Homo sapiens: one gene and its partner. The protein of the gene in region 2 interacts with the protein of the main gene of each other region in a biochemical or structural test. Each region holds a gene or a part of one and is shown on either strand. Other genes may lie near its edges.

Region 1 (2,750 bases), on a different chromosome or scaffold from region 2:
ACCTCCCAAAGTGCTGGGATTACAGGTGTGAGGCACCGTGCCTGGCAAAAAATTCTTAATACACAGCACACAGTGAACTTGTAGCTATTAGTGGGAATGTTTTTAAGTCTTTCTTCACAACTTCAGGGCTTTTTCACTTTCTTGGTTGGATCCAACATCCGTGGAATTTAAGACATCTTCATCCTTTGAGTGAAGTTGCAAAGTGTACTTATACTAGAGAAATTTTGTACAACCATACTCCTTGGGCCCCATTACAGCTCTACTGAAACATCCAAGACTCTTGTAAGATTCCCCAGGCTAAAAAGAAACACTCCATTAACATCTTATAAAGCCCACACGACTTTCGGTACATTAAGCTTCTGAAGAGTATTAATTTTTGCCAAGTAAAATGAAATACACAGGATTTGTACTACTCTCTCACTTGTTCCTTGAGCTCAAATTGGAATAACAAGTTTGACAAGTGAATCCCCTAAAATATCTAGTAACCTACTGTATTTGAAATCCTTTTGATCTCCATCAGGCTGCTCTAAACTGAAAAACCATTTAAACGAAAGGGTAGCTGTAGCTGGGAATTCAGTAGGATACTTCCAACAGTCCTGGTCAAAATGAAGACACTGCCCTGTGATGTTTGAAATTCAAGTAACTTTATTTAAATTCAAAAACAATTCTTAAAACTGCATTTAGAGTCAAGACCCTTTTGTATTATAAAAATCACAAGTATTTCTAAGAGACAAAAATACTTCTAGGTTAACTAGACCAGATCTGACTTTGGACTTTATTCTTTAAACAAATTGCAGAGAATAGAGAAAAAAATAGGTTATTTACAGAAAACAATATCTACATATGTACTTAGAGGTACAAATTTGGTGACAGAAAAGACTTCAGTATATGCTGGCATCTTAGAAGCAGTTCTCAAAGAGCTTAGTTTTATTTTCTTGAATTTTAAGAATGCCTAAGATCCTTCTTCATCCTCGATCTTGGGAGCCAAGTAGTATTTTAAGTGTCCCATATCCGCAATTTTATACTCTACAACTGAAAGACAGGAAGATGGTTAATTACTGAGGAGTATGTATCACATATGACTACCTACAAAACAAGGTTCAAATTTATTATCTTACCAAGGGGTACATCTGCAGACATACTGAGTGTCACCGTTGAAGAGAGTGGAGTGGCTTTTGTAAAGAAGTTCAGGTACCTCAGTGCAAAAGTTAGTTGAACTGGTTCATTCATCTCTATGGTAACCTACAAAACAAAAGATTCATCATTGAAAAACATCAAGAAAGTTGCAATCTATTAGCTCATTATATATTTATAAAAACCCACAAACACTTGTATTGGTCACTTTGGAGGGAGCTATGAAAATTTTGAAGACTGATACATAAAGCAAAAGACTCGATTATCTAGCTTGTCTTTCCTATAGCTATAATTTAGATAACCAAATTATATAATATGGGAAAGCTTTTCTTTATGGAAGTTTTTCTAATAAGCAGCCAATAAGTGAATAAAACGTATTAATTTCAGCTCTGCAAACTCTAATTAATGACTTAATGGATCTAGACAATGACTATTATAGCTGCTAACATTGCAAACACATCCAGACACCCTGTGCCTCCTACTAGAGGCACACACCACCACCTATATTCTTGCTCTCTCACCCCCGAAACAAAACACCCTGAATATCAAGGCTCCAGGGCTATAGCTACCAGTCTGTAGGACACACAGGGTAGAGGAATTTATGTATACACAGGAATGCAATCAGCAAAATCCAAACTCTGGAAAACTTAATAAATGATCTAATTTCTTCAACAAATAGATTGTAATGGAAGGGGGAAAATGAAATTAGGGGAAACCAGGCTAGGTGTGTTGGCACACACCTGTAGTCCCGGCTACTTGGGAAACTGAGGCAGGAGGATCACTTAAGCCCTGGAGTTTGAGGCTGTAGTGAACCGACTGCACCACCGCACTCCAGCCTGGGTGGACAGAGCAAGACCCTGTCTCAAAAACAAAGAAAAACAGAAAAAGAAAAAAACGAGGTTGGCAGGAGTGGAAATGTGATTCAGGAAACAGATAAAGAATCAGCTCCTAGACTTTATTAATTTAAAAAAAAACCTTTCAACTGAATTTTACCTTTATTTAAACTAAATGTTGACTACCCATTCAAGGGACAAGAGAGCAATATATAGTATTTATTGTAAGCTTATAATATGCCACACACAGCATATGCTAAGCTCTTTAATGCTACCGTATTTAATCCTAACAAGGTTATGAGGTTAGGACCTTTGTCCTTGATTTACAAAGTTTTAATTTATGCCCAGGTTAGCGAGTTTTTTTTGTTTGTTTAAGATGGAATCTTGCTCTGTCACCCAGGCTGGAGGGGAGTGGCATGATCTGGGCTCACTGCAACCTCCGCCTCCTCGGTTCAAGTCATTCTCCCATCTCAGCATTCCAAGTAGCTGGGATTACAGGTGTGCGCCACCACACCCGGCTAATTTTTATATTTTTAGTAGAGATGGGGTTTTGCCATGTTCTTTCTATTTTGGTTAAACAAGGGCTCTCTAGGTACTCTCAAAGTTGCATGGAGTCTGCTTTCTAGCCTTAGTGAGAAGTCTCCTTCCTGTTTAACCTTTGATTCCTACAGCCTGTGACTTTGGCTAAATTGTCACTTAAGGTTGCTCAGCCTGCTTCTCCACCTTTAAAATGGGCTACCAATTGGACCCACAACATGTAAGCTAATATTAGGATTACATAAG
Region 2 (2,628 bases):
AGGCTGAGATGGATGGCTTGCACCCAGGAGTTCAAGACCAGCCTGGGCAACATGACAAAACCCTATCTCTACAAAAAATACACAAACTAGTTTGGCGTGGTGGCGGGCACTTGTGGTCCCAACTACTCAGGAGGCTGAGGAGGAGGAGCCTGAGGTGGGAGGATCACTTGAGTCCAGAAGGAGCCATGATTGCACCACTGCAGTCAGCCTGGGTGACAGACCCTGCCTTAAAAAAAAAAAAACCCAAAACGTAACATTTTTGGTTCCGGTTCAGTCTATTTAAAATACCATTTATTTTCTTAACTGCACAAAATTAGGAAAATAAAGGAAAAAATACAATTATTTCTTCCACAGAAATGCCTGAATATTAGCAGTTATTTATTTTTTTGTTTCTGCATATATTATAAATATTATTCAAAGTTGGGGTCTTGTTTTGATTCTGCTTTTCTGATATATGAACACTGGATATTAAGGGTTCATTCAGATTTTTACTTGGTTTCAGATTGGGGTATAACATTTTGAATTTAAAATAGAACTGCAGGAAACCTTTTCTTTTTTTCCTCCCAAAGGTTTGATTGTTATGGTGGTGGACTTTCCAAGATCAACACTCCTTTATTGACACCTCTTAAATTGTCACTAGAAGAATGGAGCACAAAGCCAACTAACGACAGCTATGGATTATTTGCGGTTGTGATGCATAGTGGCATTACAATTAGTAGTGGGCATTACACTGCTTCTGTTAAAGTCACTGACCTTAACAGTTTAGAACTAGATAAAGGAAATTTTGTGGTTGACCAAATGTGTGAAATAGGTAAGCCAGAACCATTGAATGAGGAGGAAGCAAGGGGTGTGGTTGAGAATTATAATGATGAAGAAGTGTCAATTAGAGTTGGTGGAAATACACAGCCAAGTAAAGTTTTGAACAAAAAAAATGTAGAAGCTATTGGACTTCTTGGAGGACAAAAGAGCAAAGCAGATTATGAGCTATACAACAAAGCCTCTAATCCTGATAAGGTTGCTAGTACAGCGTTTGCTGAAAATAGAAATTCTGAGACTAGTGATACTACTGGGACCCATGAATCTGATAGAAACAAGGAATCCAGTGACCAAACAGGCATTAATATTAGTGGATTTGAGAACAAAATTTCATACGTAGTGCAAAGCTTAAAGGAGTATGAGGGGAAGTGGTTGCTTTTTGATGATTCTGAAGTCAAAGTTACTGAAGAGAAGGACTTTCTGAATTCTCTTTCCCCTTCTACATCTCCTACTTCTACTCCTTACTTGCTATTTTATAAGAAATTATAGAGTGAGTGTATTTTCCTTGTGTATATATTAAACACACCCATACAAACATTGGTAAAGTTGATTACATCAAAGAATCTTTAGCTTATCTTTTGAAGCTACTGGATATTATTGGTCTCTCTAGGTTTTTATATAAATAGTGAAATTTGAATTACTGAAAACCATGTTAATTTTTAGAACTCATTTTCCTCAGTAGAGACTAGTGATGCATTAGCTTCTGGGAACAAACTTGTATCGGTTCTTAATTAAATTATCCAAAACGGAGGCATTTAAACACTTGGATTTACACCAGTCTTTTGTGTTTGCTTTTTAAAATAAAGTGCTCGTATTTGTATTCTCCATATTTTGGAGTAATTATCTACATGATGTTTATAGTTCCTGTGGTTTTTCACCCAAGAAGCAGAATCTCATTCAGTACATTTAGTTTTATAAGAGTCATGAAGCTAAATCCTTGGGCTATGTCAGAGGCACAAAGTCTAGAATGTGTGTATTCACAATGGTGTATGTACATTTTGTGCCTTGATTCACTTAGAAGTGTCTCAGAAAACCTGGACAGTTCGCTTCTACACAAGAATTTTATATGTATTTATGAAGATGATTCTGTACCCTAGTATATCTTTTTGGGCATGGACTAATTTGTATCTGTTTAACTCATATTCTGCACGATCTGTATATAGTACATCAAACTTAGAGGTGTGACCTTAAATTTAACTTTTTTTAAAAACTGGGAGGTCAATAAAATTTAAACTGCTTAACTATGTATATGAATATTTGAATTTTTTACTTGTATATTTTTATAAATACAGCTGAGTTTTCTTAAAGCGAATAAGTGTGTGTATATATATATGTATATATATGAGAGAATAAGCATGCATAATTACCTTTATTACTGAATACTTTCTGACAGTGCAGGAGTTTTTCAAAGAGGAGAAATTGTGCTTAGTCCAGCCAAGCTGTCATACTTAAAAGAGGTTTATAATGAAATCTGTTGCATCTAATTGTCCTTTAAAGTAGACATGATTTAATGGAATCCAAAACTGGAAAAGTTAAGATGATGCTTTGGGCACACATAAAAACTTGGTTAAAATTTCATTTTAAACTAGTATACTGAAGTGGTAAGTGATGAATGATTTCATGACTTGTTAATGGACATTCTTGGTACTAAGTTTTTCCTAGAAATGATTCTAAATATGTAAATGCTATTGGGGTAACACTTTAATACCCCATTTCAACAAGGAGTACCTTCTCAATTAAAAAAAAATCGCAGTAGGCTGGGCGCGGTGGCTCACGCCTGTAATCCCAGCACATTGGGAGGCTGAGGCTGGT

Evidence for each region. Proteins that work in one complex are often made in the same cells at the same time.
Region 1: of the proteins of USP1 (region 2) and PCNA, one has a biochemical effect on the other in vitro, tested with the Homo sapiens proteins (6 studies listed by BioGRID, with this or other methods).

Annotation. Positions count from the first base shown.
Region 1 is NC_000020.11:5,114,331-5,117,080, forward strand, and holds the end of PCNA (proliferating cell nuclear antigen), read right to left. Parts: intron 1,243-2,750; coding exon 1,119-1,242; intron 1,033-1,118; coding exon 953-1,032; 3' UTR 623-952; downstream 1-622. UniProt on the Homo sapiens protein: Auxiliary protein of DNA polymerase delta and epsilon, is involved in the control of eukaryotic DNA replication by increasing the polymerase's processibility during elongation of the leading strand.
Region 2 is NC_000001.11:62,449,677-62,452,304, forward strand, and holds the end of USP1 (ubiquitin carboxyl-terminal hydrolase 1), read left to right. Parts: intron 1-569; coding exon 570-1,305; 3' UTR 1,306-2,128; downstream 2,129-2,628. UniProt on the Homo sapiens protein: Negative regulator of DNA damage repair which specifically deubiquitinates monoubiquitinated FANCD2. Also involved in PCNA-mediated translesion synthesis (TLS) by deubiquitinating monoubiquitinated PCNA.